Regions from separate parts of the Homo sapiens genome. Here all the other regions are linked to region 4. Evidence: fine-mapped expression QTL. A gene starts in region 4. Each other region holds a variant in brackets. All regions are shown on one strand. Distances are between the middles of the regions.

Region 1 (6,744 bases), 22 kb after region 4:
GAGAAATGCCACCAGACTGGGACCATATGTCTGATGGCATCTCCAGTTTAATCTGTAGACAGACCAGAATAATGAAATGGAACAGGGCAGGGATTGCATCTGATTTGCTCACTCTTGTATTCTCAGTGCATCATCATCCATGTTCAATAGCAATTTTTTAAAACGTTGAATGAATAAGGGACATGAACCACTATGAGGCATAGCCATTCCTACCAAAGGGATCAATTGCCAGGGTTCTCTCCTGACTCCTCCTGCTGGTCTCTTCTGAGTTAATAAACAGCTCACTTCTTTTTAGGGATACTTATTCCACCAGCTGTGATAGCTAACAGGAAAAGCACGGACTCCACTAGCTAGCATGCACCAAAGGGGAAAATAACCTTAAGTATGCAGAGTATGTTACCTCTTAGTGCTTAAATGGGTTGGCATAAGTGAATAGAGATGTCTTTTAACTTTTGGATTTTAACTTTAGGAATGAAACAGTGGAAATAGCCTCTTTCAATAACTGAGATGTATTATTAGGTGATTAAAGCTTGTTATTCCCATTCAGGATATCAGAGAGCTTTGGCTCTTTGACTTTAATAACCTCACTCACTTCTCCAGCTGTATGAAAATCATATTAGGAACTTAATAGGATGATCCTTTATGTGTTTTATCTTTCTACCTTCTCTCTCTCTTTTAAAAGCAAACCCCAGCAGAATCAGGATAGCTTTGGGAAATGAAGCAAGCACAGTGGTAAGTGCTTTAAAATTACTTTTATGAGGCCGGGCGCGGTGGCCGGGCGTGGTGGTGCAAGCCTGTAATCCCAGCTACTCGGGAGGTTGAGGCAGGAGAATCAAGTGAACCTGGAGGCGGAGGTTGCAGTGAGCCTAGATTGCGCCATTGCACTCCAGCCTGGGCGACAAGAGCGAGACTTCATCTCAAAAGAAAAAAAATACGTTTATGAAATATCTACCTCCTGGATACCGGGTTACCCTTAAGTGCCATAAGATATTTGGAAGACTGTGACCTGGTCCCTCTAGTTAAGTACTTCTTCCTTCATTTTTTGGCATGGGAAATAACTGGTAGCTGTTCATCTGCACTGTCAGCTGAGCCACTTTAGGTCGCCATTTATTGTTTATTTTTCCATTTATTATTATTATTATTTGAGATGGAGTCTTGCTCTGTCACCCAGGCTGGAGTGCAGTGGCACCATCTTGGCTCACTGCAAGCCCCGCCTCCTGGATTCATGCCATTCTTCTGCCTCAGTCTCCTGAGTAGCTGGGACTGCAGGCACCCGCTACCATGCCCAGCTAATTTTTTGTATTTTTAGTAGAGACAGGGTTTCACTGTTTTAGCCAGGATGGTCTCGATCTCCTCACCTTGTGATGCACCCATCTCAGCCTCCCAAAGTGCTGGGATTACAGGCGTGAGCCACCGTGCCCGGCCTCCATTTTTGATTATTGATGATAGTGGTTTCAATACAGATGTGGAAGAATTTTGTCTTGCTTTCAGTCATGAAAATCTTGTGTTATCCTGGCTTTTTTTTTTTTTTTTTTTTGAGATAGGGTCTCACTTTGGCATCCAAGCTGGAGTGCAATGACGTGAACATGGCTCACTGCATCTTCGAACACCTGGGCTCAAGTGATCCTCCCACCTCAGCCTCCCAAGTATCTGGGACTACAGGCATGTGCCACCATGCCTAGCTTTTTTTTTTTTTTTTTTTGGCATTTTTTTAAAGAGATGGGATTTTGCTATGTTACCTGGGCTGGTCTCAAACCCCTGTGTTCAAGTGATCCTCCCGCCTCGGCCTCTTAAAGTGCTGGGATTATAGGTGTGAGCCATTGGGCCTGGCTGCTTTTTGGTTCGTTTATTTTGAAACAGAATCTCCCTCTGCCACCCAGGCTGGAGTGCAGTGGCGTGATCACGGCTCACTGCAACCTCTGCCTCCCGGGTTCAAGCAATTCTCATGCCTCAGCCTCCTGGTTAGCTGGGACCACAGGCACGAGCCACCGTGCCCAGCTAATTTTTTGTCTTTTTGTAGAGATGGGGTTTTGCTATGTTGGCCAGGCTGGTCTTGAACTCCTGACCTCATGTGATCTGCCTGTCTTGGCCTCCCAAAGTGCTAGGATTACAGGCATGAGCCACCACACCTGGCCTGCTTTTTGTTTTTTTATGGTGGTAGAATATACATAACATAAAATATGCCATTTTAGCCAATTCTGAGTGTACAATTGAGTGGTGTTAATTACATTCATAATACTGTGCAACCATCACTACTGTCTATTTCCAAAACTTTTTATCATCCCAAACAGAAACTCTGTACCTGTTAAGCAATAACTCCCTCTTCCACCACTGCAGCCCCTGGCAGCCTCTAATCTCAAATCTGGTAGCCCCTGGTAGCTGCTCAAATCTTTGTGTGAAATTGCCTATTCTAAGTATTTCATGTAAGTGGAATCATACAATATTTGTCCTTTTATGTCTGGCCTCTTTCACTTACATAATGTTTTTAAGTTCTTCTGTGTGTCAAAACTTCATTCCTTTTTATTGCTGTGCTGAAGCTGAGTAACATTTAGATTACTATTTAGATCTTAACATTTTTCTGTTCAATGCTTTGTAGCACCTCCTTGTTATCCCAAGAATCAATTTTCAGGCTGGCATTCGGGGTCCTGTTCATCTAGCCCTGGGCAACTGTGACATTCTTTTACACTGAAGCTTCCCTAAAGCTGTGGATATTAACAGCCGATCCATGTTTCAGTGTTGTCACACCCCCCTTAGCAAATTGTGTACTATTGATGTTTTTTTCAGTATTTCAGTCAACCTT[T/G]CTTTCTTTCCTTCTCTCCTTCTCTCTCTCTCTCTCTCTGTTGTCTAGGCTGGAGTGCAGTGGCGTAAACACCACTCACTGCAGACTCAACCTCCTGGGCTCAAGGGATCTTCCCACCTCAGCCTCTTGAGTAGCTGGAACTACAGGTGCATGCCACCATGCCCGGATAATTTTTTAACTTTTTTATAGAGATGAGGTCTCACTATGTTGCCCAGGCTGGTGTTGAACTCTTGGGCTTAAGTGATCCTCCCACCTTGGCCTCCTAAAGTGCTGGGATTTATAGGTGTGAGCCACTTCACCTGGCCTAACCTTTCAATTCAAAAAGGAAAAGATGTTGTATGACAACAAATTGCTCTCTTCATGGAATGTACTAGTAATTAAACTTTTAAATTTTTTGAATGAACCATAGGTTCTAAATAAATAACAACACCCCACCATTATGTTGCTACAAATGGAATACAGACCTCTATACTTTTTTTCTTTTCATTGTAATGTCTGTTTTTTCCAGTTTTTGAGGTATAATTTACATGCCACAAAATTTACCCATTTTTATGCACAATTTGATAAATTTTGGTGATGGTATTTAAATATCCATATAACCCCTGCCACAGTCATCATATAGAACTTCCAGGTGGGGCAGAGTGGCTTACGCCTGTAATACCAACACTCTGGGAGGCAGAGGCAGGAGCATTGATTGAGGCCAGGAGTTTGCGTCAAGCCTGGGCAACACAATGAGACCCCATCTCTACAAAAAATTAAAAATTTTAGGTGGGCATGGTGGCACATGCCTGTAGTCCCAGCTACTGGGAAGCTGAGGCGGGAGGATCGCCTGAGCCTGGGAAGTTGAGGAGGGCAGTGAGCTATGATCGCACCTCTGCACTCCAGCCTGGGCAACACAGCAAGACTCTGTCTCAAAAAGAAAAGAATTTCCATCCCCTAAAATGTTTCCTTGTGCCCTTTGCAGATGATCTGTGCCCACACGCTATAGTTTGATACCACCTGTAGTGAACACAGCAATATGTGTTCGCAAAATGAAAAGGGTGCAACATGTAAACAAAATGGAGAAAAGGCCAAAAAGTCAGTCAGGGAATGGAGGACTTGAGGTAGGAAAACTTGTGTGCAGGCCAGCAAAGGACGATGGCAATGAAGGCAGAGTTGAATAGCGCCCAGAGGAATGTGGGAGGCTGCTGCAGACACAGAAAGCAGTGATCCTCAATGGGAAGGAAAGACTGGAATCCCCTGGGGGGCTTTTCACAGCTGCCCCTCACCACTACTCCTCCAAGATTCTGATGTCATTCTTGAGTGTAGGAGGCTTTGAAATCTCTGCTGTAAGTGAGCTACCACTGTTAAGTGACAGATTTTTATGTTCCCTACATGTGTGGGAAGAGAAGTTTCAGAACCACTGCTTAGAAATAAGAAAACCCGCCATGCCACCCAAGCCTACTCTTTCTTTATTCATTCAATAAATATTTGAGAATTTGTTTGCCTGGGACTGTTTAGGCATTCAATATGTACTTCTTCTCAAAGTATATGCAGATTTAGTAAACCAGATAGTGTATTACTATATTTCACGAAATAAATCAAGGGCTTAGATAATTTGGAAAGATACTGAATTAAGTGGGAACATTTTGATTCTATATGGCAACTTTATAAAATATCTCATTTTGATATTATAGTTTGTAAAGCCCAGTACGGCAAACCATATTGAAATTTTTCATTAGTCTTTTCCTTAGTAAAGACTTACCAAATAGCTGTCATTTTAATATATCCTCTTCATATTTATAATAATTGATATTAATGGCTATTAATGTGTATGTCTATTAATATATACATGTATGTAGGTTTTTGGTTAATGTACATATATATGTTATTAAATACATATAGATATATATGGCTATTAATATACATGTCCTTGGGGTTCTATGATTATTCATGTATTTTAATCCATTAATTTTTATTTGAAATTAAAATGGCTGACTTTGCATATTTGTTTACCTTTTTGTGGCAATTCAAGCATTATTTAATCTGTATTGTTAATCTCTTTTAAAGCAAGAGGAAGAACAAGATAGAAAGGGTAGCCATACTGATTTGGAAAGCATTAATGAAAATTTAGTTGAAAGTGCATTGAGAAGAGTAAACAGAGAAGAAAAAGGTAAGTTATTCAAATTCTAATCATTTCTTAGGTGAGGAGTTGGGGAATACCAATTTTTATGTTACTAGGTCTCAGATATCATAAACAAGAGTACAAGCTGATATTTGTTTGCTTATCTAGTAACTTATTTAATGTTTTAGGAATATTTTATTTACCTACAACAAAAGAGAGAATAGCATTTATCAGTAAGAGTCATTAGAAAGAGCAGTATTTATTGTGCTATCCACCATAAAAAGCATAGCATACTGTGTGTATGTAAGTCCTCCCAGGGCTTCATTCTTGTATAATATAGAATATGTAACTATATACATATTATTTTTTTAACTCAGTCACTGTAATGGTTCGTTTTAATTTTTCATTTTGGATTTTTTTTTAAATTTCCTTTGCTACTTAGATTAGAAAGAACATTGATCTTTCAAACATAGATCTGAATATGAAAGAGAAAAGAAACACTTCCATATTTGTTAGAGTCTATGTGTGGACAGAGATGGATACATAATTTCACATGCTTGGCATTCCTTTTTCACACTTTAAAATCAGGTAATAAGTCAGTCCATCTGAGGAAAGCCAGTTCACCAAATCTTCATAGACGACAGTGGGAGAAAAATGTACCCAATACAGCTCTTACAGCTTTGGAAAATGCATCCATACTCACCTCCAGTTTAACAGCAGAGGACGATAGAGGTTAGTAGTCAGATTGAATACTATTATTTTATTAGAGAACTTTTTCTAATAGTTACTTAGTGCACTTAGAGCCTTTTAATGTCTGTGAAGGGTATTTGGCGTCACACATCAGAGCATTGCTCATACAGGTGAATGAAGCAGATTTTAGTTAACAGTCAAATATAACTAACTTCGCTTGAAAATATGATCTGGAAAGTACATGCTGAAAAATCTTTTTTTATTCAGCACTAATTTTTGTCTTTTTGCAACTAGGTGGTTCTGTAATAAAGTACAGCAAAAATACTACTCGTAAGCAGTGGCTCAAAGAGACCCCTGACACTTTGTTGAACATCCTTAAGAATGCTGATCTCAGCTTGGCTTTTCAAACATACACAATATATAGACCAGGTAATTCATGTCTGTATGTGACCTTGGAAACCCTTTGACTTTTTGAAAATTGTGGCAAATATATATAACATAAAATTTACATTTGAACCATTTTAAGGTGTACAGTTCAGTAGCACTAAGTACGTCACATTGTTGTACAGCCATCACCAGTTTCCATCCACAGAAATGTTCTCATCTTCCAAAACTCAATTCAAAGGGTTTCCCTCCTCCCAGAAACGCTTTGATTTCAAAGTTATAAAGTAATTCATAGCACTGTATTTTTAGGTGTTTTTTAATCTTTTCTAGCCAGTCTTAAGCTACAATTAAAATTTTTCATGGAGCTACATTACTTCTGTTTGCTCATTTGTTTGCTTATTTTCATAATCCTGCTACTACTTTCTTTGAAGAGGAGCCCATTTTTATCATGCAAATATGCCATTGCTTTAGCAACAACTCCAAGATTTCTTTTGTTGTATACCTGAACTCTGTTACATTGAATAGAGCTCAAAAAGGATGAACAATTAGGATTTGATTTTTAAATTTTTTTACAGATATTTTTACTAACATTGTATAAAATAATTTTTTTATAATACTCTCCTTAGGAATCCAGGCCAGTGGTCTGTATTAGATATGTATATGTGTATGTGTATTATAATTATAATAATTTAATTACTAAGCCATCTTGCTAGGTTAAGATCTAAGATAGATTATACCAAGTAGAGCATGTAATGGTATGGCAAGT
Region 2 (6,744 bases), 220 kb before region 4:
TTAGGGGACCCATGGAAGGATTTGTGGGCAGCTGAGGTTGGGTGCTGTGACTGCGCAGGGGCACTGACCTGCATGGTTGTTCATTTTCTCCACCAGTGCAGCAGCTAGGAATTCACGTGTCTGAGGTTCACATGTCTAGGGTCAGACTTCTGCTGCAGAGCAGGGGAAGGGGTATAGCTCAGTATTAGAGGTCAAGAGAATTGAGGTTGTTGGAAGGAAAATGGTTTCAGTAATGGATCATGGTTGTAAATTGGTTAGGGGGAGAAGTGAGGTTGGGAAGTGTCTGGCAGATGGGAGAAAATGGAGGGCTGGAGAATCAGAAGTCTTAATGTAGTAATAGTGAGTGAGTGAGAGTAGTGAACACAGCTAGAGAGTGGGTTGAGCGGTTTAAGATTTTAGAAGAGGAGCAGAGAGTGGGAAGGTACTATATGTTGGATGGACCTGAAGCCACCTGGATGGTCCTAGCTCTGGCATAGTGAGGGAGGCTGGGACCCAGGTGCTAGAGTGACTGATGGCTAGCAGGAGGTTGGGAGATGATGGTGTTGAGGGAGGAGTAGAACGGTGGTTGGCAAGGATGGCATGGGCATCAAAGGAATGGAAGTTTTTTATGGAGGTGAAAGAGCACAGGTTGGAAAGAGCAATAGGAATGAGCTTGGGGAACGCACTCTGCTTCTTGCCCTGTTTACTTATAAAGAAAGTATGTGTAATCCCAGCACTTTGGGAGGCCAAGTTAGGCAGATCACGAGGTCAGGAGATCGAGGCCATCCTGGCTAACATGGTGAAACCCCATCTCTACTAAAAATACAAAAAAATTTAGTGAGGCGTGGTGGTGGGTGCCTGTAGTCCCAGCTACTCGGAAGGCTGAGGCAGGAGAATGGCGTGAACCCAGGAGGTGGAAAAGAAAAAAAAAAAAAAGGAAAAGAAACTATGTGTGACAGCTTCCACTGAGAGGATTGGGGGAAACCATGCCCTGCAGGGTAGCCTGGCTTCAGTTGGGACAAGGAGGTGAAGGTGGTGTTCTGTGGAGCAGTTAGGGATGTTGGGGAATTTGTAATCAGCTGTCCCCTAGGGGACAGTACAAAGAGTGGGCAGTGGGAGGACGGGTGGAGAAGATGAAGCACAGAGCTGGTGGTGATACAAACATGGGAAAAAAAGCCATAGGACTGGTGACCAAAGGGGAAAGAGAGGGGAGGGTCAGGTGGCATTAGTTGGTCTCAGGTTTCCAGGTGTTTTGGTGGCAGTACAGGTGGAGGCTCCAGGTGGTGCCTGCATTTTGATGAAACATTTTGATGACCGTGGGACAAACCAGTTTGAGGAGGGAAAAAGAAGAAAAGTACCCCTCACAATGGAAGGTAGGAAGGGGAGTGGATGGCTGAAAATAGAAGAGAGAGAATGCAGAGGCTTTAACGCTTAGGAAAGACAATTTCTGGATAATAGAAGGGGGAAATGAGTTGTATTATGTATTGCCAAGTCTTACTTTCGTCAGTTAATTTCCCTTAAGATGTACATATGTAGGAACCTAAATTTGGCCTACCTAAATCATTTTGCATTTCACATTTTATACTTCCGATGTGCCTCTCAGAGGTACATTTAACAATAGGTACCATGTTTACATTATCGTAAGTGAACACTGACTTTTATCTTGAAAATTTCTGGCTGGGCGCAGTGGCTCACACCTGTAATCCCAGCACTTTGGGAGGCCGAGGTGGGCAGATCATGAGGTCTGGAGTTCAAGACCATCCTGGCCAACATGGTGAAACCCTGTTTTTACTAAAAATTAAAAAATGAGCCAGGGGTGGTGGCATGCGCCTATAGTTCCAGCTACTCAGGAGGCTGAGGCGGGAGAATCACTTGAACCGTGGAGGCGGAAGTTGTTGCAGTGAGCCGAGATCGTGCCACTGTGCTCCATCCTGGGCGACAGAGCAAGACTCCGTCTCAAAACAAAAAAAAAAAGAAAAAGAAAATTTCTACATGCTACTTCTGTGTGGAAACTTGGAGGCCAATTCCAGCAGGAGCTGGTGAGCATGGGAGTCACCTTGATTATGGCTTACCAGGTCACCTCGCTTCTGTGGGTCTCTGTTTTTGCAGTGTTTCCCCTTTGGTGATCTTGTTTGGCTTCAGCTGCCAGCAGAAATCCATATGTAAGACCAGAAATCCCAGTCCTTGTTTATTTTCCATCATTCCTTAACTGCTAGATAATTAGAGTGAGTGACTCAGAGACCTTAAAACCGTGCAGAGCAAACAATACTAGAAAATACATATTTGGGCTGGGCACAGTGGCTAACACCTGTAATCCCAGCACTTTGGGAGGCCAAGGCGGGTGGATCACAAGTCAGGAGTTCAAGACCAGCCTGCCCAATATGATGAAACCCCAGCTCTACTAAAAATACAAAAAAATTAGCCAGGCGTGGTGGTGCATGCCTGTAATCCCAGCTACTTGGGAGGCTGAGGCAGGAGAATTGTTTGAGCCTGGGAGGCGGAGGTTGCAATGAGCCGAGATCACACCATTGCACTCCAGCCTGGGCAACAGAGCAAGACTCCATCTCAAAAAAAAAAAAAAAAAGAAAAGAAAAAGTAAAAATACATCTGTTCCTCTGTGTTTTTTGTTTGTTTGTTTTGTTTTGTTTTTTTTTGCAGCTTTCCAGCCATCCAGCCCATCTCCTCTTCAGCCCCAGGGTCCAGTGAAGTCCAACAACATCGTGACTGTCACTGGTATATCCTTGTGCTTGTTCATCATCATTGCCACTGTGCTCATCACGCTGTGGAGGAGGTTCGGCCGGCCAGCCAAGTGCAGCACACCTGCTCGACACAACTCCATCCACTCCCCCAGCTTCCGGAAGAACTCGGACGAGGAGAATATCTGCGAGCTGAGCGAGCAGCGCGGGAGCTTCTCGGATGGGGGAGACGGGCCCACGGGGAGTCCAGGG[G/C]ACACAGGCATCCCTCTGACCTACAGGCGGAGCGGGCCGGTACCTCCCGAGGATGATGCCTCTGGCAGCGAGAGCTTCCAGTCCAACGCCCAGAAGATAATCCCACCTCTGTTCAGCTACCGCCTTGCCCAGCAGCAGTTAAAGGAGATGAAAAAGAAAGGTCTGACGGAAACTACCAAAGTGTATCACGTGTCTCAGAGTCCCCTGACAGACACTGCCATTGATGCGGCCCCCAGCGCTCCCTTAGATTTGGAAAGCCCGGAAGAAGCTGCAGCAAACAAGTTCCGGATCAAATCCCCATTTCCGGAGCAGCCCGCGGTCAGTGCCGGGGAAAGGCCTCCCTCCAGGCTGGATCTAAATGTGACTCAGGCCAGTTGTGCCATAAGCCCCAGCCAGACTCTGATCCGCAAGTCACAGGCAAGGCACGTGGGCAGCAGAGGGGGCCCGTCCGAAAGGAGCCATGCCAGGAACGCCCATTTCAGGAGGACAGCGAGTTTCCATGAAGCCAGGCAGGCCCGGCCGTTCCGAGAGAGGAGCATGTCCACTCTGACTCCACGGCAGGCCCCTGCCTACAGCTCTAGGACGCGGACCTGCGAGCAGGCAGAGGACAGATTTAGGCCTCAGAGTCGAGGTGCCCACCTGTTTCCTGAAAAACTGGAGCATTTCCAAGAGGCAAGTGGAACCCGTGGTCCATTAAACCCTCTCCCTAAATCCTACACTTTGGGGCAGCCCTTGAGGAAACCAGACCTTGGGGATCACCAGGCAGGATTAGTGGCCGGAATTGAGAGAACAGAGCCCCACAGAGCTCGTCGGGGACCGTCCCCCAGTCACAAGAGTGTCTCAAGGAAGCAGTCTTCTCCCATATCCCCCAAAGATAACTACCAGAGGGTCAGTTCTCTGAGCCCTTCTCAGTGTAGAAAAGACAAGTGTCAAAGCTTCCCCACTCACCCTGAGTTTGCCTTCTATGACAATACGTCGTTTGGCCTCACTGAGGCTGAGCAGAGGATGCTGGACCTCCCAGGATATTTTGGGTCAAATGAAGAGGATGAAACCACAAGTACACTTAGCGTGGAGAAGCTGGTGATCTAGACTGAGAATCAGCCTGAGCTTTACACAGCTGGGGTCTGCTACTCGCGTTTTGTAGACTTTTGTGTAACTATTTGTACCGTAGGACAGAATGTGAGGAGGAAGTAACACACAGAGGAGGATGTGTGTGTATGCATGTGTTTGAATTCACAAGGAAGAAATTATTTATCTTGAGCTTTTTCCTTTGTTATTCAATTTCTATTGATTTATTAGTAATAACAATGATAATAAAATGTAAATGAGCAAATGGGGCTTGGTCTGTCATGTGGCTATGAAAGATAAGATGTGACTTTTGAGTAGAACATGCTCTGAACATTGCATTGGCAGTTTCCAACCTGAAGCAGAAATCTGGAACCTCAACTAAAAAGGGATGGAGCGAAGTTAACTTAGTGTCATAATTCTGAATTGCAATTTATTAAGTTATAAATACATTAAGAATTTGACTCCTACAATGGCAGCATCAAACAGATTTCATATTTGGCTGATTAAGTTAGTTATGACCATTAGACTGCTGAACTACTTAGAAATGGTGATACCACAGATATTCAAGAACTTTCAGATTAGAGTTGAGTCCAGGTGACTTGACAAAATTATATGAATTAATTCTGCTTTAAAGAGATAATGTAAGAAGCTGGTGGTTCAGGTAGTGAGTCAAATGAAGACCTATCTGTTCTGAGCAAATAAATAGTAAACATTTTGGAAAGGACAGTATTGTCTTCTGAGGAAATGGGCAGTAGGTACTGACCATGCCACTACCTGGGACCAGGATGCTGATTACATGTTCCTGGACCAAACTGGCAGCAGATACCTCAGCGTGAGAACTGGTGCATGTATGTTTTTCTTAAACATAACTTTATCATGTTGTTCAGAAAATGCATTAATTAGGTATATGTAAAGTAAGTAGAACAGTTTACAATTTTTTATAGTTTTTACAGTTTACAATTTTTTACAGTTTAAGCTTTTTTTTTTTTTTTGAGACGGAGTCTTGCTGTGTTGCCCAGGCTGGAGTGCAGTGGCGCGATCGCAATCTCAGCGCACTGCAACCTCCACCTCCTGGGTTCCAGCGATTCTTCTGCCTCAGCCTCCTGAGAAGCTGGGACTACAGGTGCTCACCACCAGGCCTGGCTAATTTTTGTATTTTTAGTAGAGACAGGGTTTCACCATGTTGGCCAAGCTGGTCTGGAACTCCTGACCTCGTGGTCTGCCTGCCTCGGCCTCCCAAAGTGCTGGGATTACAGGTGTAAGCCACCACGCCCAGCCAAGCTTTTTTAGTTAGAAGAATGAATTAAAGAAGGAAATAAGCCTTTTTAGACATTTAGAATCCCTTTTGTTTGTGTTTGCAATCTTCTACACTTTACAGACAAAGCTTTTTTTTTTTTTTTTTTTTTGAGACGTAGTCTAGCTCTGTCACCCAGGTGGGAGTGCGGTGGCATGATCTTGGCTCACTACAACCTCTGCCTCCCGAGTTCAAGTGATTCTCCTGCCTCAGCCTCCTGAGTAGCTGGGATTACATGCACCTGCCACCAGGCCCAGCTAATTTTTGCATTTTTAGTAGAGACGGGGTTTCACTGTGTTGGCCAGGCTGGTCTCGAACTCCTGACCTCGTGATCCACCTGCATCAGCCTCCCAAAGTGCTGAGATTACAAGCATGAGCCATTGCACCTGGCCACAGACAAGACATTTGAGATACAGGGAGAATAACAGGATTGGCTAGGACATGCACTGATAACATTATTGTAAATATCATGCTCTTTCCACTCTACCATCACAAACTTTACAAGTCTTTTTTTTTTTTTTTTTTGAGACAGAGTCTCCCTCTGTCACTCAGGCTGGAGTGCAGTGGCACAGTCTTGGCTCACTGCAACCTCCGCCTTCTGGGTTCAAGCAATTCTCGTGCCTCAGCCTCCTGAGTAGCTGGAATTACAGGCATCTGCCACCACATCCGACTGATTTTTGTATTTTTAGTAGAGACAGGGTTTCGCCATGTTGTCCAGGCTGGTCTTGAACTCCTGACCTCAAGTGATTTGCCTGCCTTGGCTTCCCAAAGTGCTGGGGTTACAAGCATGAGCCACCATGCTCAGTCTACAAGTCTTTTCTAATAGCAGAAACATCAGGAGAAACCTGGCCCTTTTTAAGAGGGTATGAAGAGACACTTCTATTAGCTTTTCCCAATGGAAAGAAGCTTTCCATTGCTTAATGAAATGTTAGGACTGGTTTTGCAACTTGCTTTTTTTGGCAGTAAAGGCCAAACAAAAGAATCTAAAGGTTTTGTTCCTTTATTAGAAGTCTGTCATTAGTTTTAGTTACCACATGGGCAGTCTGCAATCTCATGTACTCCTTTCAACCCTTGACCCTAATGACTTATCTGTATCCCTAGAGTAGCTGCATTTTTCTTCTTTTTCGTGGTGACCTCTCTAACTGCCACACCCACCCTGCCTTTTAGATTTTGTTTTCTGTCTTCCTTTTAGAGTTTATCAGGATGTCAGCCTGCAGGTGATGTTTCAGGGACCATTGGAGAGAGTGAAATTAGATGGGAAAAATATCACAAATGCAAATACTGCAGTTTTCTATTTTTCTCTCATATTTGTTGCATTGCCACTTCATTTGTGTCATTTTAATTGAAAATCAAAATATACCTCCTTTCGGCAATGTTTTAACATTAATTACCTTTTAGGAATAAGAGGAGTAGATTATTCAGAGTTCTCGGACAGCTGGTATTTGCTAATGCCAG
Region 3 (6,744 bases), 62 kb after region 4:
AATGGCAACTAGTGAGTGTGCCTGAAAGTTGTATATCTAGCTCATGCATGACCTGCAGGGTTCCTTCTCGTTAGTCAGGAAACCTCCATGAAGCAGAGGACATGCTAATAGAGATGCTTGAAGAGGTTGAGCCCAAACTTAACTTTTGTGTAGTGAAGGGACAGAGTGGGAGAAGGTTGCAGATAGACATGGATGATGAGATGAAACTTATTTTTCTAAAAGAGGATAGACTGGCAATTAAGAATTCTGTTGCAAAGGACCATTGGAGCTGAAGTTAGGATCTTGGGGCCTAATTGATAACAGTAAGAACTGTTACTTTGTGGTTCCCAAAGAAGGCAGGAGATATTTTATGGTAGTAATAAATACAGAAAACTTTTTTTTTTTTCCGAGACGGAGTCTCGCTCTGTCGCCCAGGCTGGAGTGCAATGGCGCGATCTCTGCTCACTGCAAACTCCACCTCCCGGGTTCATGCCATTCTCCTGCCTCAGCCTCCCGAGTAGCTGGGACTACAGCCGCCCATCACCACTCCCGGCTAATTTTTTGTATTTTTTTAGTAGAGACGAGGTTTCACTGTGTTAGCTAGGATGGTCTCGATCTCCGGACCTCGTGATCCGCCCGCCTCTGCCTCCCAAAGTGCTGGGATTACAGGCGTGAGCCACCGCGCCAGGCCGGAGAAAACTATTTTAGTCCTGGTGTCAAGAATCAGCTAAGCTGTGTGTCAGAGGGAGGGGTACGTTAAGAAAGAGAAAATTACTAATTCATTTGATGCTGTGAAAGTCAAAGCCCCAGAATTTAGCTGTAACTGAATGCCTGGACTTACAATATCAGGAGGAGCAGAAAGCCTCTCAAAGGAATCCATGACAGGGAAATGTTATCCATTGAGACAGAGATTCTAAAATCAAGGAAAGTTAAAGAGAAAGTGAATGAGCCTCTTTGCCATTTAATTTGACTAACATTGTTGTATACCAGTCTAGATTGAGAATGTTTAGAAAATAGACAAGTACAGAGTATGGGACTGTGTATTGTCCATATTTCTAATCTAGGTAAGATAGGAGAACAAGAACAATTTTTTTTTTATTGAGATGGGGTCTCACTGTGTTGCCCAGGCTGGTCTCGAACTCCTGAGCTCAAACAATCCTCCTACCTTGGCCTCCCAAATTGCTGGGATTACAGGTGCGAGCCACCTTACTCAGCCCAAGAACAAATTTTGATGGAGATAAAGACAAGCATTAGAAGATCTACTCATACCTCAGTCCTGGCACTTTGGGAGGCCAAGGAGGGCAGGTCACCGGAGGCCAGGAGTTTGATGCCAGTCTGGCCAACATGGCCAAACCATGTCTTTACTAAAAATACAAAAATTAGCTGGACCTGGTGGCCCATGCCTGTAATCCCAGCTCCTTGGGTGGCTGAGGCACAAGAATCGCATGAACTCGGGAGGTGAAGGTTGCAGTGAGCTCAGACCCTGCCACTGCACCGTAGCCCGGGTGACAGAGTGAGACTGTCTCAACAAAAAAAAAAGAGAGAAGATCTACTCATAAATTCCAAACAATGTGGCATGAATGGAGTGGCCTGATAACCCAAGCTCTAATGACCAAATTTAATAACTTTTATTATTACCCCATACATATTGTTTCTGTAAATGTTAATATTAATTTCTATTTTTCTGAAAAAAAGTGATGTTATATATTACTAGAAATATGCAAAGGGACTCTGAAAAAATGGTTTTTTTCATTTAAAGAAATTGCATATTAATTTTTCATCAGTACTCTCACTGTGTGTAAAATATCTCTGGCTAAAAAGTAAACTTACTGTGTTATGAAATGTAGCTTATGTTTATACTCTTACAAGTATCAGTATTAATGGTGTACAATTTTTAAAAAATTGAAGCTGTTTTATTTTGGTTAATTAAGAGTGTAAAATACAAAAAGTGAGATTCCAGGGAAAGTGCCCACCAAGATCAAGGATATCTGTGCCAATTAAAAGGAATGCTATATTGCATAGAAATGAATGGAGACCACCAGCTGGAGCCCAGAAGGCCAGATCTGTAAGTCATTCTAAACCCTCCTTTGTGTTTTTTAGCTATGGTATATGCTTTTTGTTTGTTTGTTTGTTTGTTTTGAGACGGAGTCTCGCTCTGTCGCCAGGCTGGAGTGCAGTGGCGCGATCTCGGCTCACCGCAAACTCCACCTCCCGGGTTCAAGCAATTCTTCTGCCCCAGCCTCCTGAGTAGCTGGGACTACAGACGTGTGCCACTATGCCCAGCTAATTTTTGTATTTTTGGTAGAGATGGGGTTTCACCATATTGGCCAGAATGGTCTCCATCTCTTGACCTCGTGATCCACCTGCCTGGGCCTCCCAAAGTGCTGGGATTACAGGTGTGAGCCATGGCGCCCGGCCCCGGCTAATTTTTATACTTTTAGTAGAGACAGGGTTTCACCATGTTGGTCAGACTGGTCTCGAACTCCTGACCTTGCGATCAGCCTGCCTCGGCCTCCCAAAGTGCTGGTATTACAAGCATAAGCCACTGCACCCAGCTGTTATATTCTTTTTCTTTAATTTTTTAATTAAAAAAAAAATTTTTGTGGGTACATAGTAAGTGTATATATTTATGGGGTATATGAGATGTTTTGATACAGGCAAGCAATGTGAAATAAGCACATCATGGAGAATAGGGTGTTTGTCCCCTCAAGTATTTATCCTTTGAGTTACAAACAACCCAGTTATACTCTGTAACTTATTTCAAAATGTACAATTAAGTTACTATTGACCATAGGCAGTCTATTGTGCTATCAAATAGTAGGTCTTATTCATTCTTTTGTTTTTTTAACCCATTAAGCTATGGTATATTCTGACAGACCTATCTGCACATGTTCATGAGGTACAAGCTTATTGTTTGGAGTCCACAAATTTTGTACTTAAAATGAAGTATTCTGTACTGAGCATTATAATGGTATTTTGTTGGACAACTTCTAGTTTTTATATTTTATGAAACAATGCTGTATGCTCTTATAAGTATACTTTAGGCTTAATTTTCTTTTTATAACTGAAATTCTTCTAATTTCTAATAAATAAGATTTTTCTGTATAGGAAAAGTGAGTAACATAGCAACAGAAAACACTCTGCATTTAATATTCTTAATTCTAACATATTATGTATAGGATTGAGAAGTTTTTATGATATAATAATTGATATTTCCCTAGTGATTCTTTGTGTTTAATTATTTGAATTCACTTCAGCAGAGTGTTGAATCTTTTAGGTCATACTAGTGAAATGCTTCTGGTATGTAAATGATAAAATGGCTACTGTCTTTTAATTAAAGAATTGTATTTTTAAAGAAGGCTCATGGTTAAATTA[A/GA]GAACCATTTGGAAGTGTATTTACTAAGTGTTTACTTGATATATAGACATTTTAGAAAATGTGTTGGTATATAAACATTTTTTTAAAAACCGATTGTTTAAGTTATTGCCCTTCATTTGATAAAGGGCTTTATTTATTTATTTATTTATTTATTTATTTATTTATTTATTTGAAAGAGGGTCCTGCTGTGTCACCCAGGCTAGAGGGCAGTGGCATGTCTCAGCTCACTGCAGCCTGGATGTATTAGTCTGTTCTCATACTACTATAAAGAACTGCTTGAGACTGGGTAGTTGATAAAGACAAGAGGTTTAATTGGCTTACAGTTCTGCAGGCTGTACAGGATGCATTGCTGGGGAGGCCGCAGGAAACTTATAATCATGGCAGAAGGGGAAGCAGGCTCATCTTAAATGGCCAGAGCAGGAGAAAGAGAGCAAAGGGGGAGGTGCTACACACTTGTAAACAACCAGATCTCTGGAGAACTTACTATCACAAGAACAGTAAGAGGGAAATCTGTCCCCATAATCTAATCACCTTCCACCAGGCCCCTCCTCCAACATCAGGGATTACAATTCAACATGAAATTTGGGCAGGGACACAAATCCAAACCATATCATTCCACCTTTGGCCCCTCCCAATTCCCATATCCTTCTCACATTGCAAAATACAATTATCCCTTCTCAACAGTCCCCCAAGGCTTAACTCATTTCAGCATTAACTCAAAAGTCCACAATTCAAGGTCTCTCTGAGACAAGTCAAGTCCCTTCCACCTGTGAGGCTGTAAAATAAAAAACAAGTTAGTTACTTCCAAAATACAATGAGGGTACAGGCATTGGGTAAATACACCCATTTCAAAAGGGAGAAATCAGCCAAAACAAAGGGTTTATAGACCCCATGCAAATTCAAAACCTAGCAGGGCAGTCATTAAATCTTAAAGCTCCAAATTCCTTTGACCCCATGTCTCACATCCAGGGCATACTGGTGTGAGGAGTGGGCTCTCAAGGCCTTGGGCAGCTCTGCTCCTGAGGCTTTGCAGGCTACAGCCCCTGCGGCTGCTCTCACAGGCTGCTGTTGAGTGTCTGCGGCTTTTCCAGGTGCGTGGTGCAAGCTGTCGTTCAATCTACCGTTTTTGGAGTCAGGAGAATGGTGGCCCTCTTCTCACAGCTCCACTAAGCAGTGCCCCAGTGGGGACTCTGTGTGGAGGCTCCAATGCCACATTTCCCCTCTGCACTGCCCTAGTAGAGGGTCCCCCTGAAACAGGCTTCTGCCTGGACGACTAGGCTTTTCCATACATCTTCTGAGATCTTGGTGGAGGCTCCCACGCCTCAACTCTTGCACTCTGTGCATCTGCAGACTTAACACCATGTGGAAGCCACCAAGATTTACGGCTTGCACCCTCTGAAGCAATGGCCTGAGCTGTACCTTGGGCCGTTTTAACCATGGCTGGAGCTGGAGCAGCCACAATACAGGACACCATGTCCTGAGGCTGCACAGAGCAGTGGGGCCCTGGGCTTGGTCCTCAAAGCCATTCTTCCCTCCTAGGCCTCTGGGCCTGTGATGAGAGGGGCTGCCTCAAAGGTCTCTGAAATGCCTTCAAGGCATTTCCCCCATTATCTTGGCTAACAACATTTGACTCCTCTTTATTTTTGAAAATTTCTGCAGCTGGTTTGAATTGCTCCCCAGAAAATGGGTTTTTCTTTCTAGGCTGCAAACTTTCCTAACTTTTACACTCTGCTTCTCTTTTAAGTATAAGCTCTGGTTTTACATCATTTATTTGCTCACAAATATGACCATAGGGTGCTAGAGCAGCCAGGCCACATCTTGAATACTTTGTTGCTTAGAAATTTTTTCTGTCAGACGCCCTAAATCATCACTCTCAAGTTCAAAGTTCCACAGATCCCTAGGGTAGTGGCACAATGCCTCCAACCTCTTTGCTAATTCATAACAAAAGTGTCCTTTGCTGCATTTCTCAATAAGTTCCTCATCTCCATCTGAGACCTCCTTAGCCTGGACTTTATTGACCATATCACTATCAGCATTTTGGTCACTATGATTTTAAGAAGTCTCTAGGGCATTCCAAACTTTCCATCATCTTCCTATCTTCTTCTGAGCCCTCCACGCTCTTCCAACCTCCGCCCATTACCCAGTTCCAAAGTCACTTTCACATTTTCAGGTATCTTTATACAATACCCCACTCCTGGTATCAATGTACTGTGTTAGTCCATTCTCATACTGCTATAAAGAACACCTGAGACTGGGTAATTTATAAAGAAAATACATTTAATTGGCTCACAGTTCTGCAGGCTGTACAGGAAGTATGGCTGGGGAGGCCTCAGGAAATTTATAATCATAGCAGAAGGGGAGGCAGGCTCATCTTACATGCAGGAGGAAAAGAGTGAAGGGGTAGCCGCTACAAACTTTTGAACAACCAGATCTCATGAAAACTCACTCACTATCACAAGAACAGCAAGGGGGGAATCTGCCCCAACGATCCATTTACCAGGCCTCGTCTCCCAACATTGGGGATTACAGTGCAACATGAGATTGGGCAGAGACACAAATCCAAAGCATATCACTCGACCTCCCAGGCTGAGACACAAATCCAAAGCATATCACTCGACCTCCCAGGCTCAAGTGATCCTACCGTCTCAGCCTCCTGAATAGCTATACTACCGGTATGCACCATGATGCCCAGCTAGTTTTTACTTTTTGTAGAGTCAGGGTCTCACTGTGTTGCCCAGGCTGTTCTTGAATTCCTGGGCTCTAGTGATATGCCCGCCTCAGCCTCCCAAAGTGCTGGGATTATAGGCGTGAGCCACTGTGCCCAGCCTAAGGGCTTAATTTTATTAAAGAAATAAGAAAAGTATGTTGTGATTCAGAGGACTCTTTATCAGACCTGTAGAAGGGAAAACACATCTAAAAGATTTGAGGATGAATTAAATTACGAACTGTTGAACACGCTGACATTTTTCCAGTTCCTTGAAAAGGTAAAATTGATTTCCACAGGAACTACCTCTGATATTCCTATTACTGTTGGGATGTTAGAGAACATTTTAAAGAAAATGTTTATTGCCTTTCAATACTTTTCTATATTTTTTACCACTTTTCAACAAGTCATTAGTAGCATTTTCTTCTAGGTTGTATATAGGTGAAATTGTAAAACAAAGAAAACTACTTCTTGTTTTAAAAGATTTTAAAAATAGGCAGGTGCAGTGGCTCACGCCTATAATCCAACACTTTGGGAGGCTGAGGCAGGAGGATCATTTCAGCCCAGGAGTTCGAGACCAGCCTGGTCAACACATTGAGACCCCACCTCTACAAAAAGTAAAATTAAAAAAAAAATTTTTTGTTTTTTACTGGACACAGTAGCATGTGCCTGTAGTCCCAGTTACT
Region 4 (6,744 bases):
AGAGCGAGACTCCATCTCAAAAAAAAAAAAAAGAAGACTTAGTTACAGAAGGGAATATAAATGTTATCAGTTGTGGAAATCTAAGAGAGTACAGCTTTGAAAAGTTTGGAGGTACAGAGGTTTGAGGCTGCAATGAGCTATGATTGCACCAGAGGTACTCCAGCCTGGGCAACAGAGGGAGGCCTCATTTCTAAAAAATAAGAAATTTGGAGGTAGAAGCAGAGGTGGGGAGTTCAAGGGAAGTAAGAGTTCTTCCTATCATGAAATGGAGAACCAAGAGGCGCTGTCTGTATTTAATAGAACTAAAAACAACAGTTTAAGGATATTAAAGTTACTAAAGTGAACAATAGGACTAAATCATAGTGTTAACTACCATGTGCACCTTAGGGGGGTGAATTAAGCTGACTTTTTATCAGTCCTTGCAAGAGTCAATAGTGTCACAAAATAGCAGCTTAATCCTATTCATACAGTTGAAGATCATCAGGAGAATTTAAAACCACAAAGGTCAAAGTGGTTGCCCTTTGGAAGTGGGACTGAAGCTGGGGAGATAAAAAGCAAGGAACAATTGCTTTTTGTTCTAGGTCTTCCTCTACTCAACTTTTTTTTTCCCCTTTGACAAAACAAAAACCAAACATAACAATCCTGGTGAGGGTCAGAGATCATCTATTTTAATGCCTGGAAATATATTCGGTGAGTCATCTTGTGGCTCTTAAACCAAACCGAAGTTAAAAAGTATAAGAAAGTCTATATAACTGTAGACTACAAAGCAGTTAATACAGAGTGAAAACTCCCAGTCATCTCAGGAGAAGTGGCGTTTTATTATTTCTGGATATATCCAGAAGCTCTCCTGGCTGGGTATCCACAGCTTGGCAACAGCTGCATAAAAAGGGGGCCAGACCTTCTCTCACCATCCCCTCTCCCTACCCTCACCAGTCTATTCTTACTGACTTACAGGTTGAATTGCATCCCCCACAAAATATACGCTGGAGTCCTAATGTGCAGTACCTCAGAATGTGATCTTATTTGGAAATAGGGTTGTTAAGGATATAATTAGTTAAGATGAGGCCACACTGGGGTAGGATGGTCCCTCAATCTGATATGACTGGTGTCCTTATACAAGGGGAAATTTAGACTCAGAGACAGTACACATAAAGGAAAGGCAATGTGGGGGAGAAGAAGGCCATCTACAAGTCAAGTACAGAAGCCTGGAACAGATCTTTTCGTTCCAGCCCTCAGAAGAAACCAACACTGTCAACACCTTTATTTTGGACCTCTAGCCTCCAGAAGTATGAGATAATAAATTTGATTAAACCATTCATTTAGCTTGTGGGACTCTGTTACAGCAGCCCTGGCAAACTAATACACCGATGGAACAAGGGAAAGAATCCCTTTCATGACTGCCATCATTGGGTGGGAAAGAAAAGCATTAAGCACCTTTGTCATCTTCTCCCCTGATGCTGTCACAAATTTAATCTGATAGAAATCTGTCTTTTGCTCAGTTCTCAAGAGCAGCATTCTGAGTACAGGCATGGGCAGTATTTTTTTTTTTTTTTTTTTAGACAGAGTTTCGCTCTATCACCCAGGCTGGAGTGCAGTGGCACGATCTTGGTTCACTGCAACCTCCGCCTCCCAGGTTCAAATGATTCTTATGCCTCAGCCTCCCGAGTAGTTGGGGTTACAGGCGCCACCCACCATGCCCAGCTAATTTTTGTATTTTTAGTAGAGACAGGGTTTCACCATGTAGGCCAGGCTGGTCACGAACTCCTGACCTCAGGTGATCTGCCTACCTCGGCCTCCCAAAGTGCTGGGATTACAGGCCTGAGCCATCGTGCCTGGCCTTCTTTGTTTTTAATTGAAACTAGTCTTTGTATAGAGTACAAAGAAAGCAGTGCAGATGTTGTAAATGTTGATTTGTAGCATTTCCCTTCTCTTATCACCACACTACAGAATAGTTGTACATTAACTTTGACATTGTGGAAGGAAGGCAATTGGAGCTGGCCAGAGCAAAGCCATTTTGTTCCTGAATGCCATTTTACAACTGCCTGACTGCAGAATGTACTTGCTGATGTTGCAGACAAAATTGCTGCCATTATGAAAAGGACTTCATGCTGAGGACTGAACTTTTCTCAAACCCCTGAATCAAGGACTTTTGCCTAGAAACCAATGAACTGTCATGATAACGCTTTATCTTCAATCAAAATAGTGGGTTACGAAGGTTATGGATGAACTAGTGAGAACTGACTTCTTACTTCCTTTAAAAACCCTACCCAAAAATAGCTGGTCAGGACACAATTCAAATGCTTCTGGAATCTGTGTTCCTTGAACTGCAATTCTCAGACTGCCAATAAACTTCTTTACTTGGATTTCGGTCTCTCTGACTCTGGTTGACACGTTATAATGAACACGTTCAGCGCTTACAAGTAAAGGGTAACCAGATGTTGTTCACAGTAATCCTATGAGGTAGGTTCTATACTTTTATACAGAGGGATTTAGTTACTCTGCTGTATTAGTTTCCTAAGGCTTCTGTAACAAACTGTGACAACCTAAGTGGCTAAAACGACACGAATTTATTACCTTACAGTTCTGAAGTTCAGAAATACAGCTCACTGGGTTAAAATCAAGGCGTCAGTGTGCATGGTGGTTTTCCTGTAGTCCCAGCCACTCAGGAGGCTGAGGTGGGCGGATCGCTTGAGCCCGGGAGCTCAAAACCAGTCTTGGCAACATAGCAAGACCCTGTTTCAAAAAACAAAAAAATCAAGGGGTCAGCTGGACTGTTACTTCTGGAAGCTCTGGGGAACAATTTGGTTTTTGTTTTTTGTTTTTCCCTCCTTTTCTAGCTTCTCCTCCTTTTCCACCTCCCACCTCCTCCTTTATATATATATATATATATATATATATATTTTTTTTTTTTTTTGGAGACAGGTTCTTGCTCTGTCACCAAAGCTGGACTGCAGTGGTGGGATCATGAGCCCTCTCCAGCTCTAGTGATCCTCCTGCCCCAATCCCCCGAGCAGCTGGGACCACAGTGCCCGTCGCTATGTCTAGTTAATTTTTCGTAGAGACGAGTGTCTCACTATGTTGCCCAGGCTGATCTCGAACTCCTGGGCTAAAGTGTTCCTCTCCTGCCTCTGCCTTCCAAAGCACTGGGATTGCAAACATGAGACACTGTGCCTGCTCCTCTTCCAGCTTCTTGAGGCCAGCTGCATTCCTTGGCTGTTGCCCCTTCCTCCACCTTCAAATAGCTTTCTCATACTGACCTTCTTTTTGGGCCCCTTCCACTTTAGAGAACCCTTGTAATTACTTTGTAATTACCCAAGCACACACTCCAAGATCGTCACCTTATTTTAAAGTCCGCTGATAAGCAACCTTAATTCCATCTGCAATCTTAACCCCCTCTGCCAAGCAAGAGAACAAACGCACAGGTTCCAGGGAGTAGGATGTGGACATCCTGAGGCGGAAGCATTATCCCGCCTTCCACAATTGCCCAAGGTCACATAGCTAGTAAGTTCTAGCTAGCACTGAGTGCTGTGCCCGTGAAATTTATCTACATAGGCTTTCACTTAACCTGCAGACAGAACTCAGTTAGTCGGGGACAATTTCCCTCAATGTTAACAGCACTGTTCCACCGCAACGTGGAACAACAGCTTTAAAACGTGCTCTTCGTAGGCCCGGCTACTCCAAGAACAGTGCCTCCCGCCAGACCCAGGCGGCTTCCTTCACCCGCAACCCGAGAGACGACCCGCCGGGCCCGCCCCGCGGAAGCCGCCGGTTGCCAGGCCAAGGAGTGGACTAGGGTCGCCGGGGAAGCGGGTGAGTGGTCCCCGCCCTGGCGGGCTGCCTCTAGAACGAGGAGGGCGGCGCGTGGTCGCGGCGCGGAGCCGAGTGGGAGCGAGGGGTAGACGCGCCCCGGACGCGCGGCCGCGCCCCTCACTTCCGCCCCGCGGTCTGGACCACTCGCCGCAAACCCGCAAGTCCCTCGCCGCCTTGGGGTCTGGGCGCGCGGTGCCGTGGGGGTCAGCAGGGCGGAGCGGCTTTTCCAGGAGAAAGGGCCCTCACGGGTGAGCGGGGCGACTGGGCTCCCCCGCGGTGCAGTTGCCCCGCGGGCGCCGGCCCCGGCTCAACGGATTCTTCTCGCTCGCTGCCCGGAAAGAACCAGTGAGAACCGCTGTTGCAGCAAAAAAAGAAGTTAATAAGCGCAGGGCTGGCCAAACCAGAACAGGGTCTCAGACCTGTCTCCCCGAGAATTCGGGGGCGAGGGTTTTAAAGGGCATTTTGGCTTCGGGGGGCTGGGGAACTGAAACAGTTGACCGGCTGGGGATGAAATCACAAGAGCTTCTGAAACTCGGGGCGGCTTCGTTGGTTCCCAGGAAGGGGTGGGGTCAGTTTCCCTTGTCTTGAAGTTTACACGAAATCCCTCTCCCAGTTATCCTAGCCTCTGTGCTAGAATAAGAAAACGACAACACGGTGAAAACTTAGCCCGTGAGGTTAGAAGCAAGATGGAGTCAGTCATGTTAGATTTCTCGCATTACTTATACATCTGTAAAGGTGGTTTCAGGGACCTTTCTGAACTTAGCCCGTATCTCACTGGTGATCCCACTTCTGGGTATTTGCAAATCACTTTATTAGGTTTTTAAAAGTATTGTTGCAGGCATGCGAAGGGGCCGATATACTTTTGCCATGTCCAGAGTGTATTCAGGTCTTGTAATGATCATATGGGTGTAATATTGAGTAACAGGCAAATGTGGGCAGAAAATATCAAATGTGGTTTTCAGCTAAGAAGTCTGGTTGCTCTTAATTTTCAGTTACTCTCCATTGCATAGAATAAAGCCCCGAAGAAACGAAGAATAAGATCATGGGGAAACTTGGCTTCCATGTTAAACCGTGTAATACCAGGTGTTAGAATAGTAGTAAAGGACTTGTTTCTTTCACATCTATATACACTCAAAAGACCTCATCGATCTTGGAAAAACATTGTTTCGAAGACAATGTGTATGACTGATTTGGTTATATGAAGAAATTATTTCTAGGATTTCCTGGTAATTCTGTGATAAACAGTAATACAAACTGGAATTTTTACAGGTCACTATAGTAGAGGTTTTAGTTTGATTTTTGCTTTGCCTGTCATGCTCTCTCTGCCTTATAATTCTTTGTGGTGTAATTAAAAAACGAACACTAGGGCCGGACGGGGTGGCTCACGCCTGTAATCCCAGCACTTTGGGAGGCCGAGGCGGGCGGATCATCTGAGGTCGGGAGTTCGAGCCCAGCCTGACCAACATGGAGAAACCGCGTCTCTACTAAAAATACAAAATTAGCCGGGCGTGGTGGCGCATGCCTGTAATCCCAGCTACTCGGGAGGCTGAGGCAGGAGAATCACTTGAACCTGGGAGGTGGAGGTTGCGGTGAGCCGAGATCGCACCATTGCACTCCAGCCTGGGCAACAGGAGCGAGACTCCGTCTCAAAATAAAAAACAAACACTGTAAGCTTTTTGAAAAATCAAGTAAATTCATTACAGTGTTTTTCCTGCAATGAAAAAGAATGCATCACTTCCCTAAGGTTTTAATAATCATAATAGCTGCCAGTTATTCAGGACCTTGTATGTACCAGGCAAAGTGTTAGGAACGTTTTATCCATTTTCTCTTATGTGCTAAGCAGTCCCGCTAGCTGCTTCATCCTGGAAATATAGATGGGAGACTGAAGTCAAGGACTCCAACTGTGTGTTTAACATCTCTCTTGACTCCCAGGAACCTCCAGTTTGGCATGTCCAAAATGAAACACATGTCTGTCTTCTATCAATATGTTTTGCCCAACCCCTGCAACACTCCCACTTCCAGAAAAATCACACAAACAAAAAACCACACACACAACCATTGTGCCTTTCCTCTCTCAGGGAGTGCCAAGAAACCATCTGGTTCATGCCAGAAACTTGGGAGTCAACCTTGCCCCCTTCTCTGCTTGCCCCCCATAAATCTGCCACCACAAATCCTGTCAACTGTTCTTACATCTTTCCTTCCCATTTTTTCTGACCCCATTGCCTCCACTCTATTCCATTTCATTATTTTCCTGCCTTTTCTATTGTTGGAGCCTCCTAACTGGCCTGTGTCTCTGAGCTGGCCTTCCTGCCCCTCCTCCACTGGTCCATTTAATCTGCAATCTGAGTGAATGTTTTTTCTAATATGCAAATATGATTATATTGCCTTCTTGGTTAAAATGCTTCAGCAGCTTGTTACATTCTTCTTTCAATTTCTTGAACTGAATGTAATTTCTTTAGCTCTTAAATATGCAATTTCCTCTTCCTTGATTACTCTTTTCCTCCTCTTTGTCTAGCCAAGTTTCATTCATCCTTCAGGCTTCAGCTTAAATAGCCTACATTTGTTGAGGTTTATGGTTATCTCTGCATGGGATGTCCACGTTGGCAGGGACTATGAGAGATTTTTCAGATTATAACATCTGACTCAGAGTTGGTGCTCAGTGTCTGCCTGTTGTATGTAGTATAGGGGAGGAAAAACATTTTTTCTCTGCCCTCTTAGGTTCAGTAGCTGGGCCCTGCAAAATAAACTGATGAAAGATAGATTAACAGGAAAAAAGGTTTATGCATAAATGTAAAGAAGTGGTTAGACCAGGGGGCTCATATGCCATTTTAACAAAGAGTGATAAATTATAGAGAAGTAACTAGACAAAAGTAGGGGAATGCTTCTTGGGTAAATTGTAGGAAGGTAAATATATGGCGGAAGCTAACATAAGAT
Region 5 (5,894 bases), 140 kb after region 4:
ATACTTTAATCAGCAGTAAAAATCAACATTGAACCCCCTTTCTCCTGACTTAGTATATATGTTATGGGATTAAAACAAATTTAACTATTAATCTAAACAAGACATGATTAAGAATGTGTTATATACTGTCATTTTGAGGGTCAGATGCCAAAAAAAATATGTCTTTTGAACGATCAATATTCCACTAAAGTCTGGTAAGATAGTAAATCTTTTTCATTCCATCACTTCACCTCAAGTAGAACAATTTCTGGGATAAAGGAATGGAACTTAGATTTCTCCACTTCTATTTCCAGTTCTGTATTTGCTCTATTTACATGATCTAATACTACTACCTTCCCTTATGTACCTCTGAATGAGCTGCCAAAAACCCACTAATGTTCTACTTAATACTCATTAGTAAACTCATTCACAAAGTGACTGTTAAAAGGTTCTCCATTGCTGTCAGGTCGATTGAAGCTCTGCAAAAGCAAGGGCCCAGGCTTGCTCATACCATGTCCCCAATGCCAAGTACGATGCCTGGCACAGAGAAGGCATCCAATGAATATATGACGGATGCAAAAGTTTATTACGTCTTCAGATGTTGCTTAAAATGTGTTAAAATAAAATGCCAAGGTGCTTTTCTTTTAGGGTTGCCAATACAGTTGGAATCTAACTTAATATTTTTCATACTCTGCCTATCCTTTATAAAGGATTTGAGGAGGGCTTATAAGATTTAAAAACAATAAAATGCCAAAAGTTAAATAATAAAAAGTCAGGACCAGTGAAAATAGAATAAAGATGGTGTGTATGTTGGGATGGTGGTTGATGATGGACACAGGTATGCAGGCTGTATTTACATACATAGTAGTGAATAGCAGACTGGGCTCTGGGCTGCTCAGTAGCCTAGGCAAATAGGGGATGTTTTGTGTAGTTACACAGTGTATTACTTCGTTTTCACACTGCTGATAAAGACGTACCCAAAACGGGGAACAAAAAGAGATTTAATTGGACTTACAGTTCCATATGGCTGGGGAGACCTCAGAATCACGGCAGGAGGTGTAAGGCACTTCTTACAGGGCAGTGGGCAAGAGAAAAACGAGGAAGCAGCAAAAGCGGAAACCCCTGATAAACCCATCAGATCTCATGAGACTTATTCATTATTATGAGAATAGCATGGGAAAGACCGGCCCCCATGATTCAATTACCTTCCCCTGGGTCCCTTCCACAACACATGGGAATTCTGGGAGACACAATTCAAACTGAGATTTGGGTGGGGACATGGCCAAACCATATCATTCTGCCCTGGCCCCTCCAAATCTCACGTCATCACATTTCAAAACCAATTATGCCTTCCCAACAGTCCCCCAAAGTCTTAACTCATTTCAGCATTAACCCATATGTCCACAGTCCAAAGTCTCATCCGAGACAAGGCAAGTCCCTTCTGCCTATGAGCCTGTAAAATCAAAAGTAAGCTAGTTACTTCCCAGATACAATGGGAGTACAGGTATTGGGTAAGTACAGCTGTTCCAAATGGGAGAAATTGGCCAAAACAAGGGGGTTACAGGGCCCATGCAAGTCCAAAATCCAGTGGGGCAGTCAAATTTTTAAAGCTCCAAAATGACCTCCTTTGACTCCAGGTCTCACATCCAGGTCATGCTTAAGCAAGAGGTGGGTTCCCATGGTCTTGAGCAGCTCTGCCCCTGTAGATTTGCAGGGTACAGCCTCCCTCCTGGCTGCTTTCATGGGCCGGCGTTGAGTGTCTGAGGTTTTTCCAGGCACACGGTGCAAGCTGTCAGTGGATCTACCACTCTGGGGTATGGAGGACGGTGGCCCTCTTCTCGCAGCTCCACTAGGCAGTGCCCCAGTAGGGACTCTGTGTGGGGGCTCCAACCCCACATTTCCCTTCTGCACTGCCCTGGCAGAGGTTCTCCATGAGGGCCCTGCCCCGGTGGCAAACTTTTGCCTGGGCATCCAGGCGTTTCTATACATCTTCTGCAATCTAGGTAGAGGTTCCCAAATTTCCATTCTTGACTTCTGTGCACCCGCAGGCTCAACACCATGTGAAGCTACCATGGCTTGGGGCTTTCACCCTCTGAAGCCACAGCACTAGCTCTGCATTGGCCCCTTTCAGCCACGGCTGGAGCAGCTGGGACACAGGGTACCAAGTCCCTAGGCTGCACACAGCACAGGGCCCCTGCACCTGGCCCACAAAACCACTTTTTCCTCCTGGGCCTCCAGGCCTGCCATGAGAGAGGCTGCCATGAAGGTCTCCGACATTGCCTGGAGACATTTTCCCCCATGGTCTTCAGGATTAACATTAGGCTCCTTGCTACTTTTGAAAATTTCTGCAGCCAGCTTGAATTTCTCCTAAAAAAATGGGTCTTTCTTTTCTACTGCATTGTCAGGCTGCAAATTTTCTGAACTTTTATGCTCTGTTCCGCTTTTAAAATGGAATGCTTTTAAGAGCACCCAAGTCACTTCTTGAATTCTTTGCTGCTTAGAAATTTCTTACACCAGATACCCTAAATCATCTCTTTCAAGTTCAAAGTTCCACAAATCTCTAGGGCAGGGGCAAAATGCCTCTAGTACCTTTGCTAAAACATAAGAGGAGTCACCTTTCTCCAGTTCCCAACAAGTTCTTCATCTCCATCTGAGACCACCTCAGCCTGGATTTCGTTGTCCATATCACTATCCGCATTTTGTTCAAAGCCATTCAACAAGTCTCTAGGATGTTCCAAACTTTCCCACATTTTCCTGGCTTCTTCTGAGCCCTCCAAACTGTTCCAGCCTCTGCCTGTTGCCCAGTTCCAAAGTCGCTTCCACATTTTTGGGTATCTCTTCAGCAGCACCCCACTCTACTGGTACTAATTTATGGTACCAAGTTCATTTTCACGCTGCTGATAAAGACATACTCGAAACTGGGAACAAAAATAGGTTTAATTGGATTTACAGTTCCACATGGCTATGAGGCCTCAGAATCATGGCGGGAGGCATAAGGCACTTCTTACATGGTGGCAGCAAGAGAAAAATCAGAAAGAAGCAAAAGCAGAAACCCCTGATAAACCCCATCAGATCTCGTGAACTTACTCACTATCACGAGAATAGCATGGGAAAGATTGGCCCCCATGATTCAATTACCTCCCCCTGGATCCCTCCCACAACATGTGGGCATTCTGGGAGATAAAATTCAACTTGAGGTTTGGGTGGGGTCACGGCCAAACCATATCACATAGTTTTCACTGCCCACATGAAAACATACAAATTCATCAGAAAAGTAAATTTTGCTTTTTTTAGATACAG[G/A]GTCTCACTCTGTCACCCAGGCTGAAGTGCAGTGGTGCAATCATAGCAATCACTGCAGCCCCAAACTCCTTGGCTCAAGCGATCCTCCTGCCTCAGACTCCTGAGAAGCTGGAACTACAGGTGCATGCCACCACACCCAGCTAATTAAAAAAATGTTTTTTGTAGAAATAGGGTTTTGCTATGTTGCCCAGGCTGGTCTCAAACTCTTGGCCTCAAGTAATCCTCCTGCCTTGGCCTTCCAAAGCATTGAGATTACAGGCATGAGCTGCTGCACCTGGCCAGAAGTAAATATTTTATTGATATTTAGTTTTGACATAAAGTTCTCATGTGGGATTTCCTATTGTGAACAAATCCTCATTTGTTCCTATTGTGAACAAATCTCATGTGGGATTTCCTACTGTGTACTTGAAGAGGTATTTGACTCTATTTGAAATCCCACATGAGCACTTTATTTCAAAGCTGAAATAATTGGTCTAAAATAATTTGGTCTTTATATTCTTTATACACCTTTATACTCTTAAAAATTTTACTGAGGATACAATAGAGCTTTTGTTTACATCAGAGTTTCTCATCCTTGACACTACTGACATTTTGGACCAAATAATTATTTGTTGCGGAGGTTGTCCTATGTATTATATTTAGTAGCATCTTTGGTCTTGACCCACTTAGATGCCAGTAGCACCCTCCCAATCAAAATTATCAGTTGGGCATGGTGGCTCATGCCTGTAATCCCAACATTTTGGGAGGCTGAGGTGGGAGGATTGCTTGAGCCCAGGAGTTCAAGGCTGTAGTAAGCTATGATCATGCCACTGCACTCCAGCCTGGGCAACAGAGCAAGACTCTTATCTCTAAAAAAAAAATTAAAAAAAAAAAGCCCTCCAGATATTGCCAAATGCCAAATGTCTTGCGAAGGGCAAAAATCACCCCTGGTTGAGAACCAGTGGTTTACACTGCTTATATCTACCAATATTTAGCATATTAGAAATGAAAACTAAAGAACTTTAAACTTTTTATGAATTCATTTGAAAATAAAAATTCTTTCATAACACATTAACATATTTTTATTAAAAAACTATCTTTTCCAAACCAAAAAAAGAAATTTAGCAAGAAGGGTGCCAATGATTTACACTTTTTGCAAATCTTTTTAATGTCTGGCTTAACGTGAAACCAGATAGTGGCTCCTCCTTTCTGTTTCTGCATTCAATCTAGTGATATGTTGTTTTTGTTGAAGTATATGAAGAAAATTCAGGCTAACTTAGACATGTAGTAGGAAAAGGGAGTATATTTTAATATATATTGATCTTATGTTTAAAATATATTTAACTTTTCAGCTAGTTACAGATATTCTTCTCTGATGCTAGACCACATTTGACAAGTTATGCAGTTTCTTAATGTCAGTTGCAATACAGACTCTGAAACCCTATCAATGACCTTTTCACACTGTTAATTAAAATCCACTATCACTTAGTTTTATCCGCTATCACTTTTGCACTTATCAACATAGTAAAATAGGCAAATATTACATTAATGTTATTATAAAAACAGATTTGTTGAGGATCCATTGAAGGGCCTTGGGACCTGCATGGTCCATGGAGCACAATTTGAGAACCACTGCCTTAAAGGATGAACAGAGTCTGACAAAAGTGGTAAGATTTATCATTTATTTAACATTTGGAATATATGAATTCATAAAAGCAACACTACAGAGGACAGTTTGCTTTCTCAGGACACTCTTTCAAAAGCTTATTTAAAATGCAGCTGACCCATATAATGTAAAGGTTTTTCTGGCAATTCCTTCAAATAATTTAGGTGGGAAAATTCATGTGACAAGCTTTTCAAACTGAACTATTAAACATTTAACTTAAAAGCTGCATAATAACTAAAGTTAAACCTGTCCTTTAAGTCTGGTTAGTGAGTTTATTTAAACATTATAATGTAAAGCACTGAGGAATATTACGTATGACAGGGAAGAACCAAAAGGCTCTGATAACAGACTTTCTCATTCAAAATGTTTAAAGTAATGATTACAGAATTTGAAGTAGAGTGGACAAAAACGAAGAAGAAATGCCTGAACTTTTGAAAGAATTAGGTATATACTGCTATTCAGGAAGCTATGGTGTTAATTATAAATTTTCAGCCTGAACAAAAATATGTAGGTGGTAAAAAAACTAGGTAGGTAGAATATACTAGGCCTTCTGTTTTATTAGTGGAGGGCAAGGCATTTAAAATACAGTAGTACTACAACAACAAAGGTGGAAAAAAGCCTGGGAGTTTTTTCACCAAAATGTTAACAGTGGCTATCTCCGGATGGTAGCATTCCTGGGGTTTTTTCCTTTTACTTATCTATTTTCTAATTTTTCTAGAAGAAACAGCATATACACGTAATACAAATAAAATAATATTTTATGTAACTTCTTACATCATAAAAATTAAAGTAACAGATTATCAAAAAGCAGAGGATTCAACATAAGCTTTATATTTAAGTGACGTGTTAACAATGGCAGTTTTGGTGAGTTTAAGAGTAGAAACTAAGATGAGAAGGAAGATCCGGTTTCTTCTTTACCGAAAAGAGACATGATAGATTGGAAAATGTCTCGTGGCTCAATCGTAAAGAA

The links. PIP is the estimated chance that this variant, and not a neighbour inherited with it, causes the effect.
Region 1: its variant is fine-mapped to the expression of NEK3 in tibial artery (GTEx, PIP 0.92).
Region 2: its variant is fine-mapped to the expression of NEK3 in whole blood (TOPMed, PIP above 0.99).
Region 3: its variant is fine-mapped to the expression of NEK3 in whole blood (TOPMed, PIP 0.97).
Region 5: its variant is fine-mapped to the expression of NEK3 in T cells (TOPMed, PIP above 0.99). The same link has a PIP of 0.9 or more in blood mononuclear cells.

What each region holds. Positions count from the first base shown.
Region 1 is chr13:52,135,008-52,141,751 of GRCh38, reverse strand. It overlaps NEK3 (NIMA related kinase 3), which reads left to right. Exons shown (of 16, transcript NM_002498.3): 11 at 683-732; 12 at 4,850-4,952; 13 at 5,493-5,636; 14 at 5,889-6,023. Among named protein-coding and RNA genes, the nearest start is that of NEK5, 9.3 kb to the right of the region's middle. The variant T/G (reference allele first, on the strand shown) is at 2,801.
Region 2 is chr13:52,374,683-52,381,426 of GRCh38, reverse strand. It overlaps THSD1 (thrombospondin type 1 domain containing 1), which reads left to right. Exons shown (of 5, transcript NM_018676.4): 5 at 2,638-4,260. The coding sequence ends at 4,016. Among named protein-coding and RNA genes, the nearest start is that of THSD1, 28 kb to the left of the region's middle. RefSeq lists enhancers at 2,998-3,497, 3,498-3,999. The variant G/C (reference allele first, on the strand shown) is at 2,928.
Region 3 is chr13:52,095,043-52,101,786 of GRCh38, reverse strand. NEK5 (NIMA related kinase 5) reads left to right here. Exons shown (of 24, transcript NM_001365552.1): 12 at 1,911-2,044. Among named protein-coding and RNA genes, the nearest start is that of NEK5, 31 kb to the left of the region's middle. The variant A/GA (reference allele first, on the strand shown) is at 3,355.
Region 4 is chr13:52,156,609-52,163,352 of GRCh38, reverse strand. NEK3 (NIMA related kinase 3) reads left to right here and starts at 3,756. Exons shown (of 16, transcript NM_002498.3): 1 at 3,756-3,810. LOC124903176 (a long non-coding RNA gene) reads right to left here. Exons shown (of 2, transcript XR_007063806.1): 2 at 6,007-6,744. RefSeq lists silencers at 1,765-2,059, 3,820-3,879, 3,960-4,069.
Region 5 is chr13:52,012,786-52,018,679 of GRCh38, reverse strand. All of the region lies in intron 1 of ALG11 (ALG11 alpha-1,2-mannosyltransferase), which reads right to left. Among named protein-coding and RNA genes, the nearest start is that of ALG11, 3.3 kb to the right of the region's middle. The variant G/A (reference allele first, on the strand shown) is at 3,280.